3 linked regions of the Homo sapiens genome follow. The protein of the gene in region 2 interacts with the protein of the main gene of each other region in a biochemical or structural test. Each region holds a gene or a part of one and is shown on either strand. Other genes may lie near its edges.

Region 1 (3,653 bases), on a different chromosome or scaffold from region 2:
CTGTCACCTTTCATTGTCATTAATGAAACTGTCTGGGATTTTATCTGCACTTTTCTGGTGATTTAAAGAACAATTTTTTTTTGGTAAGTTCTTTGAAGACCAAAAGAATGTTTAAAATCACTGGGCCTTGACGTACAGATTTCAATGAACAATAATCCAAGTATGTGTTAGTGAGACCGAAATAAAATTTAGAAATATCTTAATTTTGACAAGACAGAAAGGGAATTTTTGAAAAGTCCAAAATGCATATTCATTTATGTTAGGAGGAAGTTTTTTTTTTTGTCAACAATCTCTGCTTTGGTTACTTCTTTACATAATACAAATTACAAATATCATACTATTTGATACTCATTAAAAACAACAATAGCTAAGGTAATATTTTAAGCCCAAAGGTTTGCCTAGGTCCTAAGTGATCATATTGGCTTGCTGTCTTTGTATTAACCAGATGGTTGTGAGACCACAGTCTCACTTTGGACAGTGTAGCCATTGGCTGGAGCCATATGAATTCTGCCTGAAGTGAGGGCAGAATCAGATGAAAGTGGCTCACCTAAGACCCTCAGAGGAGCCAAAAGACAAGTAGTGAAGGCAGGCCTTGATAGAAGCTTTCCTTGAATCTTTATATCACTGTCTAAATTCGTATTTAGAATAGAAAAATACAATTCCTACATCCATGCTAGTATGAACTTTGTATAGTCAAGGACCAAAGAAATGGTTTCAAGGTAGTATCCTCAAGGAAAGCTAATATATATCCCCAGAGACAATATCCCAGTGGAAAAGGATTACAGATAACAGGTTTTAGGGCCATAACTTTTGGTCCCAACAGGAATTTATAGATTATAATGAGCTAGATATGCTAGAATATTTCAGTCATGAAAATGGTGTAAAACCTTTATAAATTTGCCTGAGTTTTCTTTTTATATTTTGATTTCCTCAGAGAAAATGGAATTTCATTTAGAGTGCCTGGGAGTAGATAACAGAGTGCTTAGAACATGCCTCTGACACTCAGAATAAAAGCTTTCTCTGCTTCTGTGACATATTCCTGCTATTCTTCCTGGTAACTGAGGGGAGGACAGACTAAGAGGCCCAATTTAGGACTGGATAGATGATAGTCTATCTTTCTCCAGAATCAAACCACATGTAACACAAGTTGGCAGAAATTTAGACTTTGTAAAGCAATGTCTAAATTTTCCCACCATTTCCCAAGGTGGGAAAATGGTAAAGGTACCATTTTCCCATGAGCTTTACTTTATTCCATACCCTCCCTCCCCCACTTTTTCTGAGACAGGGTCTCTCTTTGTCACCCATGCTGGAGTGCAGTGGTATGATCTCGGCTCACTACAGCCTTGGCCTCCCAGGCTCAGGTGATCCTCCCACCTCAGCCTCCTGAGTAGCTGGGACTGCAAGTGTGCGCCACCATGTCCAGCTACTTTTTGTAATTTTTTTAAGAGGGGGGTTTTGCTATGTTGCCCAGGCTGGTCTCAAACTCCTGAGCTCAAGCCATCCACCCACCTTGGCCTCCTAAAGTGCTGGGATTACAAGCGTGAGCCACTGTGCCTGGCCTATACACCATTTTGACCTGCCTCTTTCCTACTTAGAATTCAGGCAGCCTGATTCTTAATGGGACACCCTCTTTATGACTTAGGGTGCACTCAAGCCCATGACCCTTCAGCATATCCCGCCCACCTTTCCCCTTCCTTTGCTCATTGATCCAATATCCCATCTAAACCTCCAGGCCTTCTCCTTTATTATCTATTTTCTATATATGGCATAAGAATTGTCATAAAAAATCTTTCTTAAATTGAACTACATTTTCCCAACTGTTCAAATACTCAGGCATTCATTCATTTTTCAAGTTGTGAGACCTTTACATTGGAATTTTAAAAGTCATGTAAATACGAATGTGTACAAAAACACTGATATATGATTTATTACTGATGGTTTGGTTCCACCAATGAAATAAAAATTAGGCATGTCTAAACAAAGCTGTATAAATAAGTCAGTGCTGATACAGTGCCATCTACAATTAAATGTCAAAACAAGCTGTAATGATAATGTATTTAGTAAATCTTCAGGTTAACCTAAGAGAATCTCTATTTTAAGACCCTATTAACACAATTTTCCTTTTACCCCCCCGCCCCCTCAAGATATAAGAAATTGCCAATTCCATCACCCCAAATGTGATACTAAAACAGCATGCTTTTCACCAGGAAAGGTTTTCTGAGGATAAAAATGTGATGAGCCATTAGAAATTCACAATATGGTATCAAGAAAGATCTCAATGCCTATATTTTAGCATGATAGTTTATTTCTTTAAGAGAGAAGGAGCTGCTGTCTCCAAAGCAGCCATTCTTTAATCATGTCATTTGAAATGCACTTAAAGCTATGTCAAATTCATATAGGAAGTCTGGTTACCAGAAAATACACATTCACAAACAGGAAATCTAACTACAGCAAGAAGGTGTTTTCCCCCGACACAATAGAGTTCAAAGATGTGTCATCCATGTAATTTGGAGCAATACCCAACACCACTCTTATTGCTGAGTATTCCTCTCTCCCCTCTCCTATATTATGACAACTCGTGATTATAGCATTACGTTTTCTAAGCCTGTTTGGACTTGCTGCTCTTGCTTATACATACAAGCGACCTGCCCTTTTTCTGTGCATAGCTTTCAATCAGTAAGCATGTCAAGGTGGGAGGAAGGATGACAGGAATAGTAAAAGGGGGAAAATCAATTTTCAGAAAGCATATGGCAACAACTGAATATTTAATCAAATTAGTCTAGAAATTCCTTCCTATTTTCAGCACTCTTTGCAAGGCAGTTGCTTCATGGTGCAAAATGAATTTCAATAAATGTCATATATTTAGTTAGATGGCTTATTTTAAAAATTTGTCGAACAAGGTCACTGACTTAGAATAGATCTTATTCCAAGGTATGACAGATGGATATCAATATTGAATAGAAGAACTGACATTAGCTAGAAGTTTCTGGGCAGAAGAAAGAGTCATTCAACACTCTACAAAATACTTACTGAGTACCTACTATGTGCCAGAATAAAATGATGAATATTTGGGCTTTGTATTTATATTACAAAACAGAGAGGAAATGTGTCAAAATAATTTCCTTGGGGTTAGTAAGGATTACAACTGAGTATTACTGGTAAACAAGGACTTTAAAAAGTGCTTAAAATTTTCACATTGCATCATTCAAACATCCATACTGTCATGGTTGCAAGATTTTAGACCTAATCAGATTTTTGAGGATGCTGTTTATTGACGCTTAGCAAAAACCAACTTCCTATTTTTTTCTGGAACAAAAAGGCCTTACACAATTTTAGAGATCTCTTGGACATCAAAGAGCTTAGAGGGACATACAGTTTGTGAGTAATGATTTAAGATTTAGTGAATCAAAGACACATGGATTAAATTTCCCTTAAAAGACCCCTAGGTTTAAAATTTAATAGCTAAAATGCTGGTCTAGATACACTCTGGTCCCAATGCTGGTCCCAAGCAAAGCCAAAACCTATTTTTAAAGCTAGGTTGAATTGTCTTATGGACCCAAACCTTGGCTGGGTTTTCCTTTCCCACATGATTAGGCCTCAAAGGAGGCAACCTATCTCTAATAAATTTACCACTTCTCTTTTTCTCTGACTTG
Region 2 (3,653 bases):
TTTATACGATCATTTCATTCACTTTATAAATACTGGGCTCAGAAATAAAGAAAATTACAATCTTTCAAAACATTTTAATAATTCTTTGTGACTCATTTATTTTCTTGGTTTCATCAGATTGTAATTCTACTGATTGTTCAAATTTATTTCCAAAAAGACTGCATTCCATGCAAAGAAACGTATTAAAATATCTTATTTACAGTCTGGGGAAATGCTGACTTCCTATTAATAATCTTCCATGTGAAGAAGCATTGTTATCCAAATTTCAGTATTAAATCACCTTGAAATCTTGTCATGATAATGACATGATTAGCCAACTTTTGAAGATAAAAGATCCCATCACCACTTGTTTAAATTGATAATGATTTCATTACTCATCTAAACCACAATACAACCTCCCTCATTTGTACTGCATTTGGAAAGGGAATTCAGCCAGTATTATAGAAAGTATCTGAAACACTGAGTAATTTGAGAAAAATAAAATTCTTCACATTATAAATCTTTCATAATACATTTTATATTTCTCTTTTGTATTCCATGGTACCCCACTAAAAGACAACATGAGAAACAGTTGAAAGGTACTCTTTTCACGGATCTATATTACTTTAAGATGTTAAAATTTAGAGAAAGGACAATAGGGATGTAAACACACAAAAAAATAAGTGTTCAAAACACTTAAGAAACAGCTTTTTACTTAATACATGTTGCATCATACCTAAAAAAATACATTTGACATAATGTCATAATATAAACCATACTTCGAAATCATATGTTCAAATCAAAATATTGACACTTAAAAAGAAGTTCATTTTCCCCCATCAATTGATATCTGAGATGCTAGAATCAGGACATAATGGGTAATATTAGTGATCACTGGTTAAGAACAAGATACTCTATTCCGTTATTTGTCCATTTATATACAAATACCAGACACACACTATGTACCAGGTATAATATAGATACTGTTAGAATACAGTGATGACCTCATTTATAGAACAATGTCACTTCTGTTTTATGATAAGCCCAAATCAAGAACTCTTTGTGGCTATGGAATAAATAATTTCTGCTTATAGGAGAAATCCAATTCACAAGTACTCAAAATTAAAAATACCAAACTTACCCATCCACAAGTCCTTGCTGAATAATCAATCGCTGAGCCTCATCTCTAGAAATTTTGTGGTGAAACCATGGCTGGGACCGGTGGATAGCTAAAGAAATAGGATGGATGAATGCAAAGCTTTGTTTGAGATGACTGCAATTTCATTACATGTCCTTTCCATGTCTATCCGTCTACTCAGTGGCAATGACTATGAACAGACATACCCATGTTTGTGGCAGAGCTCTGTGAAGAGGCAGTGGGGCTACCGTGAGTGCCCAGGCGTAAACATCCTTTTTTCTGAGCAAGGAAGGAGAAAACAAATCTCAAGTTTTTAGGTGAAACAAACTGAAATCATAAATATTTTGAAGCATGTGAAGCTACTTGTACCCTCCAAGCGAGTCCTTCTTCAACCGCAACTGAAAGGGCTTCAGTGGGATTTTCTATAACTCTGCTTTTCTGGCCTGAGAAGTCCATTGCTACCAGGGAATTCTCTGATATACTTCTCTGGAAAAAAGAAACACATTTGAGTTATGAAAATTTCTTTGAAAGTTATCTTTCAAATAAATTGAAAGTGTTTTTCAATTTCAGTGTTTTTCTCTCAGTGTTTTTCTGGCAGTACATTTCCATTCTAGAAGGTGGTGCCTGAAGGGGCTAGCAGAATATTTAAAGTGAAAATACATATTCAAGATATAAAGGTGCTAAAAATATTTTTGTTAAAAAAGCTAAATAGTAATTTGTTAAGGTAATTGAAGAGTTGAATAAACAGATTAAAAGCTTTTAAAGTATGTCTTTCTTCTAAAACAAACTTATCTTTTCACGTTCTCTAGTAAAATGGGAAAACTTCCATTTAGAAAGGAATAGCTCTTCCTCTGGTTAAAAAGATACATTGTTTCTGAATTGATGTCTCCATTAAGCTTTGAGATCCGTCAGTCATCAATTAAATGTCAAATCCATCTACTTATGAAGCAACTAGTTTTTAAGATTCAAGATACCCAAAAGTTATAACTTAGATTGACATATATCTCTTGAGAAATAATACTCATTATTTTTAATGAGTTTTATAATGGAGCAAACTAGAATATGTATTTTAAAAGTTTATCACATCAACTTTCATCTTACTTAGAAAATAAAATTTAGTGAAAGAATAATCCTGATAATTCCATAACCTTAAAATTTCCATGATTTAACATATGAATACATTTTCATCTTGTGAGAATACACTTGGCCACATGAGGGCTGCAAAAATAAGCCTGAATAAGAACTGATAGAAGGCAACTTTAAAGAAACTTAGTTTAAACAAATGATAAAGTCATTGTTTTTGCTAACTACTTCTTGTATTTATATTCTTTGAGTTGAAAGTAAAATATGCAAAACCCGATCTTCTTTTTCTTTTTTGTTTGTTTGGGGCTCTACTTTACAACCATCTTTTAACAAATATGCCACCCCACAACAAGTCATGAATCCTAAGAAAGACCATTGTCAAAATCTCTAGTCAAGAATCCCACTCAGTTCATAAGTTCATACAACATCAAGAAGGAATTAAAATTCTCCAAAAGAAAAATTTTAAAACACCCATGGAAAATAACAGTTATTTTCTACTAATTAATAGAAGAGCAAAACCCAAAGTGGTGTTATAATAGTAAACTACTAGCCAGCCTGCATCTGGGGCCCCCTGGCTTAAAAGCATTTTATCTCTCTTTATGTAGATTCAGCTATACCTGGCTTGGTTGCATAGACTATAGTCAAATGTAGGCTTCAAACAAAACCTTATCCACAGATAACTATAGGACTCCTTTATCACTGCTTCAACATATCCCACTTTATTAGCATTTGTAATTTTCTCTTCAAACTATGCTGTAGTGGCCTACAATCTTATTATGGTTCATCTATATTTCTAAAGATCTGGCATGCAATCTTTCATTTGTTACAGGAGCCTTTATAACTGACAGCTGCTCTTTCCACACAGATGCTGTCTCTGTAATCTCTATTTGCTGTCACACCTTAGTTTGCCCTTCTCACCCCGTGATCTTCTGTGCAGGTCTGTAGACCAGTCAGATATACTTGTGCTTTGCTGACATTAATGAAAAGCATCCACCTGCCCAAACCACAGAGTAAGCTTCCTCAATCATAATAGCTTTATCCTTATAATATCTCTCCGTTTACATGCCAAGGTAGGTTCTGTAATCTCAACTCCCTGGCAACATAAAAATACCATTATATTAAGAAAAAAATAATCAGCTGTCCTATTTTTCTCCCTCTAGTATAGCAGGCCAGGAAATAAAACAAGATCCTGTGTTCCCTATTTACTTGACATACATAAGAAGACGACACTACAAATAAGGAACGTTTTCATTTGCTACATTAACTAGATTAACGGAAAACACAGGACTATAGCAAATGTCTTCTACTGAATGGCAGGTGGTAGATAGAAAATTAATAGTTTACCATTGGTGGACAAAAAAATGGAAGTAAAGCAGAGTCTGACAAACTCAAAAGGTCATTTTCAGATCAATTTCTTTCACATAGAAAAGCAATGTTGATAACATTCAGAATT
Region 3 (3,653 bases), on a different chromosome or scaffold from region 2:
GGAGGTGCCTTCCAGGCTCTTCCCCGCCCCATCCCCACCCCCACACTGGCCAGGCCGGCCCCACAGGGCCCTACAGGGCTCACCTTCAGGTCAAAGTGTGCGATGCGCTTAGAGTGCAGGTAGTGAACGCCGTCCAGGATCTGCTTGAGGAACTGGGTGGCCTCGTCCTCCGTCAGCGACTCCTTCTCCGCCAGGAAGTCAAAGAGCTCCCCGCCAGAGACCAGCTCCAGGATGAGGACCACGTCCGTCTTGTTCTCGAAGATGTCGTGCAGGGTGATGATGTTGGGGTGCCGGATCTCCCGCAGGATGTTCACCTCCCGCTCGATCTCCTCCCGGCTCACCCCACGCCGGCTGGATGACAGGCGGCGCTTCTTGATGAACTTGGCTGCGTACTCCTTGCCCGTGCCCTTCTGCCGGCACTTCCGCACGATCGCAAACTGGCCGCTGGAGGAGGGGGAGGGAGTGAGTGGGGGTGGAGGAGGCGGAGGGAGTAAGTGGGGGTGGCTGGCTCCCCGTCACCTCCACTTGCTCCTCTTGGGCGCGGCCCTGCACCAGGCACTTGAAGGACATGAGCTGGCCACTGCGGGGGTGCAGACTCTGCGCCTTCTCAGAGAGCAATTCCTTAGCGCCCCACACCATCAGACGCGGCGTTCCCACCCCTCCCAGGGCTATGCCCAGCAGGTGTGTGGAGGGGAGTGCAGAGCCACACGTTAACACCATGGCACCGGCGTATTTTTGAAAAGTGAAAGAATGAACAGTTCAATGCATATCAAGAGGGAACTGAGGGGGCCAGGCGCGGTGGCTCACGCCTGTAATCCCAGCACTTTGGGAGTTCGAGGAGGGCAGATAACTTGAGCTGAGGAGTTCAAGAGCAGCCTGGCCAACATGGTGAAACCCTGTCTCTACCAAAAATACAAAAAATTAGCTGGGTGTGGTGGCGGGTGCCTGTAATCCCAGCTACTTGGGAGGCTGAGGCAGGAGAATCGCTTGAACCTGGGAGGCAGAGGTTGCAGTGAACTGAGATTGTGCCACTGTACTCCAGCCTGGGCAACGTAGCAAGATCCTGCCTCAAAAAAATAAAAAGTGCAAGGCAAGTGCCAGATCCGCTTTTTTTGTTTTTGTTTTGTTTTGTCTTGAGACAGGGTCTGGCCCTGTTGCTCAGGCTGGAATGCAGTGGTTCAGTCATGGCTCACTGCAGCCTTGACCTCCTGGGCTCGGGCAATCCTCCTGCCTCAGCCTCTCAAGCAGCTGGGACTACAGGCACATACCACCACACCCAATTAATTTTTTTTTCTTTTTGTAAGGATGAGGTCTCACTATGTTGCCCACGCTGGTCTCGAACTCCTGGGCTCAAGTGATCCCTCCCAAGTAGGTGGGACTACAGGAACACACTACCACACCTGATTTATTTATTTTTTGTAGAGACAGGGTCTTGCCGTATTGCCCAGGCTGCTTTGGAACTCCTGGCCTCAAGAGATCCTCCCACTCCCCCACCCCAAGTGTTGGCAGTACAGGTGGAGCCGCTACATCTGGCCAGTATCCGCATTTTAAAGAAACCAAGGCTGAGAAAAGGAAAGCAACTAGCCCAAGGTCATGCAGTCAGTCAGTGGCGGGAGGATTCAAACCTTCAAACCAGGTGCTGCAGGCTCCAGAGCCCAGGTGCTCTAACAGGAAGCAGACAGCTGCTGCTGGGTACCGGGTTCCTGCGTGCCTACCTCCCGGCTCCACGCTGTCTCCTGCTAACAGACCCAGCTGTCCCAGGGCAGCCTTTGCCGCTCACTCTCAGTCTGTGGGACTCAGTGGCCCAGGAAAGGGGTGGAAGGGGACACGACTGGACCTGGGCAAGCAGAAAACCACGCCTTCCAGCCCAAAGAGACCGGTCCAGTCCACAGGGCTCTGAACGCCTGCTGGGAAGAGAGGATCTCTCTCTCCCTCTGCTGGGCTTGGATCCAGGCTCGCGGCAGGGGCCACCACGTAGAAGGCTACCTAAGAAGCCTGCCTAAGAACAGACCAGGCCAGGAGAGGGGAGCCACCAGGCACTGCGGGTGGCACATAAGCCCCGTCATTCACTCTGCCAGGGCGCCTCCTCCATGCTGGAGTGGACTTCGGCCCCGGGGACACAGGGCACCATATGCACCAGCACCCAGTCACACCTGCGGCCGCTGCACACCTGGACAACCTGGTTCTGTAAACCACGCCTTTCCCTGTTTTGCTATTGCCAACCAGATTTCAGGTTCTGCCACTGAGTCCTCCTACAGCAACAGCAGACCACAGCCGCCCACCTCCAGACAGCCCCCGGTCTCACTGGCCACAGACTTGCTCCTTAGAGGCAAGGCCACTGGCAGGCTCTCAGTTCCTCTACGGAATGTGAAACGTGCCTCATCTCCCCAGCCGGGAAAGAAACTCCCCAAGAGCTGAGCCCACCCTCTTCGCTTCTCTGTAACTTCCCCAGCCCCCAGCGCAGGTGGGGGCACAGCAAGCCCTCCTCAGTGATGGTCTCAGGTGTCACTCCCAACCCACTTCCTAAGTGCCTGCCACAACCCAGACACGACCCAAGCGTGGCCTACACACCGACAATTTCTACTGATAGAGTTCATGATGTTTAAAAATGCGGGCTGGGAAGCCGGGCACAGTGGCTCACGCCTGTAATCCCAGCACTTTGGGAGGCAAAAGCGTGCAGATCACGATGTCAGGAGTTCAAGACTAGCCTGACCAACATAGTGAAAGCCACGTCTCTACTAAAAATACAAAAACATTAGCCGGGCGTGCTGGCAGGCATCTATAATCCCAGCTACTCGGGAGGCTGAGGCAAGGAGAATCGCTTGAACCTGGGAGACGGAGGTTGCAGTGAGCTGAGATTGCGGCATTGCACTCCAGCCCGGGCGACACTGCAAGACTCCGTCTCAAAAAAAAAGTGTGGGCTGGGGCCAGGCACAGTGGCTCACACCTGTAATCCCAGCACTTTGGGAGGCAGAGGCGGGCAGATCATTTGAGGTCAGGAGTTCAAGACCAGCCTGGCCAACATGGCAAAACCCCGTCTCTACTAAAAATACAAAAATTAGCTGAGCACGTTGGTGGGCGCCTGTAATTCCAGCTACTTGGAAGGCTGAAGCAGGAGAATCACTTGAACCCGGGAGGCGAAGATTGCAGTGAGCCAAGATGGCACCACTGCACTCCAGTCTCGGCAACAGAGCCAGACACCGTCTCAAACAAACAAACAAAAATTGCTACATTCTGGGCCTTCATCTTGCACTTCATGTATCTCTGAGAATGTTCCAGACCACTACCTGAAGCAGTGCCGTCAGAACAGCAGACACTGGCCACCCAGAGCTGTCAAACCCGTGAGGTGTGGCCAGTCCCGAGAAAAACTGCGACATGAAATACACACCAGACCTCCAAGGCTTCACGGCAAAAACAGAAGGCTAAATACTTTTTTTAAAATTATGAATTTCTGTTTGTTTGAGAGATGGGGGTCAACTTATGTTGCCCAGGCTAGTCTTGAAGTCCTGGGCTCAAGCGATCCTCCCGCCTTGGCCTCCCAAAGCGCTAGAATTACAGGCGGAAGCCGCCGCACCTGGCCCTGCCTGGTTCTTTTTACAAGCTGCATCCTATTCCAGCCCTGATGCAGTGGTTTGGGGAAGGCCATTTAAGAG

What was found.
Region 1: the proteins of GRB14 (region 2) and MET form a complex in vitro, tested with the Homo sapiens proteins (one large-scale study listed by BioGRID and IntAct).
Region 3: the proteins of GRB14 (region 2) and DAPK3 form a complex in vitro, tested with the Homo sapiens proteins (one study listed by BioGRID).

Annotation. Positions count from the first base shown.
Region 1 is NC_000007.14:116,678,567-116,682,219, reverse strand, and holds part of MET (hepatocyte growth factor receptor isoform b preproprotein), read right to left. Parts: intron 1-3,653. UniProt on the Homo sapiens protein: Receptor tyrosine kinase that transduces signals from the extracellular matrix into the cytoplasm by binding to hepatocyte growth factor/HGF ligand. Regulates many physiological processes including proliferation, scattering, morphogenesis and survival.
Region 2 is NC_000002.12:164,495,888-164,499,540, forward strand, and holds part of GRB14 (growth factor receptor-bound protein 14), read right to left. Parts: intron 1,604-3,653; coding exon 1,487-1,603; intron 1,397-1,486; coding exon 1,324-1,396; intron 1,209-1,323; coding exon 1,121-1,208; intron 1-1,120. UniProt on the Homo sapiens protein: Adapter protein which modulates coupling of cell surface receptor kinases with specific signaling pathways. Binds to, and suppresses signals from, the activated insulin receptor (INSR). Potent inhibitor of insulin-stimulated MAPK3 phosphorylation.
Region 3 is NC_000019.10:3,964,548-3,968,200, forward strand, and holds part of DAPK3 (death-associated protein kinase 3), read right to left. Parts: intron 445-3,653; coding exon 84-444; intron 1-83. UniProt on the Homo sapiens protein: Serine/threonine kinase which is involved in the regulation of apoptosis, autophagy, transcription, translation and actin cytoskeleton reorganization. Involved in the regulation of smooth muscle contraction.